2 linked regions of the Homo sapiens genome follow. The protein of the gene in region 1 purifies or fractionates together with the protein of each later gene. This does not show direct contact. Each region holds a gene or a part of one and is shown on either strand. Other genes may lie near its edges.

Evidence for each region.
Region 2: the proteins of TSEN34 (region 1) and TSEN2 purify together in Homo sapiens (affinity purification with mass spectrometry; 4 studies listed by BioGRID and IntAct, with this or other methods). This does not show direct contact.

The regions. Positions count from the first base shown.
Region 1 is NC_000019.10:54,189,582-54,193,328, reverse strand, and holds the start of TSEN34 (tRNA-splicing endonuclease subunit Sen34), read right to left. Parts: upstream 2,022-3,747; 5' UTR 1,965-2,021; coding exon 1,722-1,964; intron 1,609-1,721; coding exon 1,365-1,608; intron 1,214-1,364; coding exon 956-1,213; intron 155-955; coding exon 1-154. UniProt on the Homo sapiens protein: Constitutes one of the two catalytic subunit of the tRNA-splicing endonuclease complex, a complex responsible for identification and cleavage of the splice sites in pre-tRNA. It cleaves pre-tRNA at the 5'- and 3'-splice sites to release the intron.
Region 2 is NC_000003.12:12,529,428-12,533,174, forward strand, and holds part of TSEN2 (tRNA-splicing endonuclease subunit Sen2), read left to right. Parts: intron 1-334; coding exon 335-446; intron 447-1,427; coding exon of another isoform or gene 1,428-1,451; exon of another isoform or gene 1,452-1,735; intron 1,736-2,142; coding exon 2,143-2,232; intron 2,233-3,234; coding exon 3,235-3,294; 3' UTR 3,295-3,747.

The DNA.
Region 1 (3,747 bases):
ACCACCTTACCATCAGGCTGCGGAGAACAGAGGAGCAGGGTCTTTCTGACGCTGGTTCCAAGGCGCCCAGCAGCAACCAGGTCTTGGAGTGGGATGGTGTCCTCAGGGGCCCAGCACTGAGCGATATAATGGGCGTGGAAGCGGAGGGGGTCACCTGGGGGAAGGAGAGAGGCACTGAAGCAGTGACCAATGGCAGACGGCTGGACGCCACGGGAACGACCACTGGGAGGAGATCTGAGATCATTTCAGCCATCACTATAGATACTCTAAAACAGATGCTCTTGGACACAACTATTCCACTTCTAGGCTTTTTTTTTTTTTTTGAGACAAAGTCTCGCTCTTGTCCCCCAGGCTGGAGTGCAATGGCACGATCTTGGCTCACTACAACCTCTGCCCCCTGGGTTCACATGATTCTCCTGCTTCAGCCTCCCGAGTAGCTGGAAATACAGGCACCCACCACCACGCCCAGTTAGTTTTAGTATTTTTAGTAGAGATGGGGTTTCACCATGTTGGCCAGACTGGTATCAAACTCCTGACCTCAGGTGATCCACCTGTCTTGGCCTCCCAAAGTGTTGGGATTACAGGCGTGAGCCATTGCGCCCAGCCTGATGTCTAACTACTTCTAAGTGAATCTTCTGGATCACAGTAATCATTTAATAAAAGTCGTTAAACTGCTTGCCCAATGAGTTCGGGAGCTCCCAAATGTTTCCTGTCTGTCTATGAATTTCAGAGGCTAAGAGAAAGTGAGACAAAAAAGAAAAATGCAGCTGGGCCTATAATTCCAGCACTTTGGGGGGCCGAGGTGGAAGGATTGCTTGAGCCCAGGAATAGGGACCAGCCTAAGCAACAAGAGACCCCACCTCTATTAAGACAAAAAAAAAAAAAAAGAAAAACGCAGAATACATTGGGATCGTATGGAAAGGCACAGCAACCAGAGGCCCCAACCCATACTCACCAGGATAGACCAGGAAGTCACCTCCGAACTTGCCAGCCGCACTGAGGAAGAAGCCTCGCTCCCACAGGTCTCTGTAGATACTGTAGCGCAGCTCGTGGGCAGGGCGGCCGGCGTGGGGCCAGTCTTTAGACTGGACACGCCAGTCCAGGGGCCTGGCCTTGACCGGTCGAGGCCTGGCAGTGGCCAGCTGGACAAGGAGAGCAGATCTGGGCAAGGGGGCTACCCCATTTGAGGGTCCTGCTTGGGAAGACGAGGGGCCTGGTGGGGAGTACAGAGAAGAGTTTGGTAAATTCAAGGGGTAAAGTCTTCTCACCCTCAGGGAGACCCAGGCACTGGATTCCCAGCTAAAATTCCTAAAAGATCTCTCCTCTCCTTCCCGTGGTCCCTGGACTCCACCTCCCATGCTCACCAGCTTCCTCCTGCTCTCCCGAAGCCTGGCCATCACTGGTCTCATCCTCTTTGGCAGCCTGGCTCGAGCCGGCCTCCTGGCTTGAGCTGGCCCCTGAAGCCTGTTCTAGTTTCTGCTTCTTAGCAGCCTGGCCCTCCGTAATCTTCTCCAGGAGCTCCTGACGACGGGTCTCCCGGGCCTCAGCTGCCAAGGCGCTCTGCTCCTGGAAGCTCTCCTCTTGCTGGCGCTTGAAGGATGTCAGGGCCTGAGAAGCACACTTCGCTGGAACCTCCAAGCTTATGGTCCCTTCAGAAGCCAGGAAACTTGACTCCCAGGTCCCGCTCCCACCGAACCCGAGTTCGAGCCCCGCCCCCTTACCAGGCTGTGGTGCCGAGAGTCTGGACGCGGGGCGCTGACCAGAGTCACGGCGCCGATCTCGGCCAAGAGCCGCGCCTCTTCGGGCATCAGCAGCAGCGGGAGGCCCAGGCGCGAGTTCTGGCGGGGCCCGCGGGGCAGGGCGCCTACCGTGCGGCCCCCCACACCCAGGCGCTCCCGGAGGGCCTGCACCGCCTCGGCTCCCCACACCAGGGAGCGGCCGTTCGCCACCTCCACCACCAGCATCCTCCTGCGGGAGCCGGGAGGCAAAGCAGTTACCGAAACAGCTGCGCGCCGCGGACCGCTGCAGCGCACCCAAAGCCTCCGGGGTCTCGGCGAAGCCCCGCCCCTAGGCCTCAGGGGGCGGGGCCTCGCTCAGCCGCCGTTCACCACCTGCTGGGCCCGAGCGCCAGGCCCCGCCCCCGGGCGATCCCACCAGGCCTCGCGGCCGCCGGAGACGAGACGCCGGAGACAAGCCCCCGACCCTCTCCCCTCGCCAAGCCCCCAGGGTCCCGCTCTACCCTTGTGACCCTGCGGTCGGCACCCGCTCTGTGCCCGCACTGCCGTACCTACCATTGCGCCTTGGAGCGTGAAAAACAAACCTCCGCAAGCGCGGCGACACGCCCCCTTACAAAGGTCCATTTTGGCACCACCCTCTTGCAAAGTGGGCGTCCCCCTTCGGGTGTTCCCGTCAGCGGTCAGAAGCTCTGGAGGCTAAGGCACCGCCGAGGCCACACCCTCTTCCGGACGCTCGAGCCTTCGCTCCTCCTCTTTCCGAACGACTGTGATTCGGCTTTCGGACCTCCTCGCTCTCAGACTCCCACAGTACAAAACCCTGCCCCCTCCCGAGCACAGGAAGTTCGGCGTTCGGGCGTCCTCGGCTCCACCGAATCCGCAGCCCCGCCCCCTTCTCGAACGCCAGCAATTTGACGTTCGGGTGTTCTCGGCTCGGCCGAATCCGTAGCCCCGCCTCCTCCCGGACGCAATAGGTTCGGCGTTCGGGCGTCATCGGCTCCCGGCAGCCTCGCGGCCTGTGGCCCCGCCCCCTCCGAGCGCCAGCGCACCCCAGTTGGGGAGTTCCCGCCCTACGACCGAACCCCACAGCCGAAAGCCCCGCCCCCTGGACACCCGCCGTCCACTCTCCGCTCGGGCGGGCTCACCCCAATTGGGAGCGCTCAGTCCGCCTCCTTGCCTCCCTTCAGAATGTCCCACTGTCCACCGATAGAACCAGCGAGTCACCTCATAAACAGTAATTCGCAGTCGAGGTGGAGCCACCCACTGCGCACCGCGCCACGCGCTCCTTGCTCCACCCCCTCATGCCGACACCCTCGTCAACTTCGTCATCCCGCCCCATCAGCGCCGCGGGAAGTCAGGTCCCGCCCCTCGCAGGACCGAAGCCCCGCCCTCCTCCCGCGGGGGCCACCTTGGCTCCGCCCCACTGAGCGCACCTCCCTCTGCCGCTTCCTCTCCTCTACTTGGGAACTTGAGGATCGTCATCCTGGCCCGGTCCCGTAGGCGCACGCCGGCCCTCGGGGTTCCGCCCCTTTGAGGGCAAGTCGCTTTCGCCCCGCCCCCTTGTAAATACTCATGGGTGTCTGGCGAACCTGTTGACTCCGCCTATCATCCTAGCGTCACTTGTACCCAACTATCTACGAAGTAAACCGAAGCTTGTGGCCCCACCCACATCCGGCCGAGTCTGTGGCCCCGCCCACATCGGAACAGTGACCCTAAGGACTCGACTACCTCCGAAGAAAGCCGAAACATGTGGCTCCGCCCACAGTGGCCTCAGCTCTCCGTTCTCGACTATTGCCGAAGTGAGCCGAAGTTTGTGGCCCCGCTTCCGGAGAACTCAAGCTCCCGATTGTGCCCGAAGGAACCCGAAGGGAGACCCCGCCTCATTCCTCACGCCGAGCTCCAGACCCCGCCTCCTTTCCAGAGCCCGTCTGTTCCCCTTCGGGTCCAAAGCTTTTGGCTCCTCCTTGTTCCGAGCCCGAAGGCCCGCCCCTTCACGTACTCGGAGCTCGGATCC
Region 2 (3,747 bases), on another chromosome or scaffold:
TGCACTCCAGCGTGGGTGATAGAGCGAGACTCCGTCTCAAAAAAAAAAAAAAAAAAAATTAGTTAGTATTAGTGCCTAAACAGTTGTGTGAATTTACAGCTTTCACATTGGGAAAAGTATTTGTTTTTTCCTGTAAGTTTTGGAATCAGCCTGAAAGTTTGTAACTTAAAGTATGAATTTTTCATTAATATTTTCTCAATAGCAATTTAGGGGAATTTAGAATCAGATGATGCAAATTTCATTTTCTGTATATTTGTTCTTGGTAGGACAAATATTCTTTTTAAACAGATTTATTTCATGATTACTTTTAACATGCTTTTTCTGTATTTTCCAGTTATTCTGTCATTATCGAGCTAGTTGATGACCATTTTGAAGGCTCTCTCCGCAGGCCTCTCAGTTGGAAGTCCCTGGCTGCCTTGAGCAGAGTTTCCGTTAATGTCTCTAAGGTAACACAACATCAGCTTTGCCATTGGAGTGTCACTTAAATGGTTCAGTTTTTTTTTTTTTCTTAAATGTAGTAGAATCAAAAAAGTTAGTTGTAGAAACTTCATAACATTCCTGCCAGTGACATGCTGGAAGATTTGGGGTCATTCGTACCCTTCCCTTATTGCGCTAGAAGTTGTCCTCCCCTCATGTTACATTTTATTGTCCCCTCCCTCCCAACTGCTGCTGAGCTCCAATGACGGAGCTTTGGAGTGTCCCATGGTGATCTGATCTGGGTAGGCATTGCTTCTCTTCCCAGGGGTATCGTTGCTATGTGACTTGTTTTATACTGCAATTTAACATTCACTCATACACATATTCACAAAGGAGTCAAAACATTGAAAGTTTGCAGATCTCTTAGAGAGGAAGGGACTTGATATTTGTTGCTAAGCACTTTCCCACCCTGTTGTTATCCTCATCCTGAGGATGAGAAACCAAGGTTGGAGCCGTTGAGTGGCTAATCCAAGATCACACAGCTCATGTGCATACTCGGGATCCAAACCCACAGCTCTCTGGCTCCCTGGCTTTTGTTTCACTATATCCTTCGTGTTGCCATCAGAGATAGGAGGGACTCAGCTTACACAAGGACTATCAAGAAAGAAAGCTGTGTGTGTTCTCATTACTCAGTGATTTGCTGGCTGAAAACAAATTGTAGATACCCTCTAATTTCATCCTCATGCTGCTGGAGGTGAGGTGGGGCTGAGGCCAGAGGGTCTTGCAGGGCTAGAGATGACTGCCCTTTAGAGCAGGTTAGGTTGCCTAGGCTTTAGCTTGGTCCTATAGAAAATTAGGGAGCCTATACTGTTTCTAGAATTTTTATGCCCATTTTAGGGGACTTGTAGCATATACTTAATATGTCCTCACTTAACATTGTTGATATGTTCTTGGAAACTGCAACTTTAATGTCGTATAACAAAACCGTTTTTTCTTCTCATCATTTCAAGAAAACAATGTTGAAGTTTATTTGAAGACCTGCTGTACATCTGTATTAGTCCATTCTCATGCTGCTATAAAGAAATACTTGAGACTGGGTAATTTATAATGAAAAGAGGTTTAATTGACTCACAGTTCCATGTGGCTGGGGAGGCCTCAGGAAACTTACAATCATAGTGGAAGGCACCTCTTCAGAGGGTGGCAGGAGCAAGAATGAGAGGATGAGTGAAGGAGGAAGCCCCTTATAAAACCATCACATCTCATGAGAACTCACTGTCACAAGAACAGCATGGGGACCGTCCCCCATAATCTAATCACCTCCCACGAGGTCCCTCCATGACACGTGGGGATTGTGGGAACTACAAGATGAGATTTGGGTGGGGGCACAGCCAAACCGTATCAACATCATTTCACTTAAAGTCCGTGTCCAAGAACCTATCAAGGACATTTGAGGACTTACTATATTTAGTATTCTTAATGCTGTGTTTATAATCAATGTATCTGCTTATATCTGTTGCCATGTTCAGTGATTACTAAACGGCAGGTACTTAGTCAGAACGTAAATCCCAGTTATGGTTTCCCCAGGAGGAAACTGATGTGCTCTGTGAGTTTCCACTTGGAGTGCACAGTGAGAGGGACTGGAGACCACCTGCATTTCCTGCTGATGCACCCAAATTTGTACTATTATTTTGTAGGATACAGAAGTGGTTTTTCATTTCTCAATAGGAACTTATGCTGTGCTATTTGATTAAACCCTCTACTATGACTGACAAGGAAATGGAGTCACCAGAATGTATGAAAAGGATTAAAGTTCAGGTGGGTAAACTCAGAGAAATTCATGTCATCCCAAAGATTCTGTGAATCATAGTGTATCTGGAACATGTGGTCCCAAGAAAATACATGAATACAGTTTTGCCTTGGTAACAGAGCCTTCTCAGGCAGGCTCTTAAGTCTCTCACCTTTTCCCCATTGAACCCATTGGACACGAAATCTATGCTGACTTCCTCTATTCCTTAATTCCCCACTTTATTACCTGTGATGTCCCCATCACTCAGCTGAAACTGCTCTCTTACAGGTGGCCTGTGACCCCCTGGCCAGGCCAGGACTTCTCACAGGTCTCATTCCCAGAGACCAGAGGTGTCCCTGTTGACTTGTTCCTGCTTCTGGGCTTCTGTATTGAACCAAGGCGCCTCCTGTCATCTTGGCTTGTTTCTCTCTGGTCTGGCCGAGTTGTCTAGTGTGTGTCCGTGTTTCTGCATTCCCTCCCTCTGTGTGTAGAGCCTTAACGTTGCCATTGGCTCCTCCCAACATCCAGTATGTCTTTGTTGTCGTCCTGTCTTCTTTTCACACCACCCTGCCCCTGCAGACCTGCTGGTCGGTCTCCAGGGCCCCAGCACGTCTTCCCTTCAGTTGGTCCCACTTATCTCCACTAGGCTAGTTTCTCATAAAATGCTCATCAACCTCATTTCTCCCTTCTCAGTAGCTGGCCCCGTTACAGCAATGCCATCACAGACCTAGCTCTAATGTAAAATGCTAGCTTTCATCCCGCCCACCTGTTTCTGAAATGTGCTAGTAGAATACCACAGCAGAGGCAAGCTTAGCTGTTAAAATCTTTGCCTGGTGAAAGTAGATACTGTATGCTTGTAAGGTTTATATTGTTACATTCATTTTCTCCAGATGTTTCTGTTCTAAAGGTGGGAACAGTATCATCATTATATAGACCGCCCTTTGTGAAATGTAGCTGTGGTGTCAGCTGTGGTGTCAGAATGGTCTTACATTTCTGTTTTAAGAAATGGTCTTTTTTTTTATTGGTTGTAGGAGGTGATTCTGAGTCGATGGGTTTCTTCACGAGAGAGGAGTGACCAAGACGATCTTTAACAATTCAACCTCAAATTTCTAATTTCACCAACAACTATTTATTGAGGGCTAGGTAAAAAGTTCTTTTTGTTGTAATCGTCCATTAATTCATAAGTTTTAAAGGGCATGGTGCTCCCAGCACCAGAAAACTATCAGTGTTTTTAAAGATAAATTACACAAGGGAGGAGAAAGATCCCTGTGCTAGGACTGCAGATTCTATACTTGCGTTGGCCTCTAACTCTCCAATCCAGAGCCTCCTGCCTCTGGCGTCAGTCTTTTCCCTCATCCACTCACTGGGGAGATTGGACTAGAGGAGTCCTGAGAGGACACTTCCAACAAGAGACATTTATTCTCTGATTTTACCTGAAAATGGTAGTAGTTTACATTTATACAGTACAGTTTATGAAGCACTTTCATACGCAGGCATCTCTTGTTACCTACATCTAAGCTGTTCCCGAAAGAGTGTTACAGAAC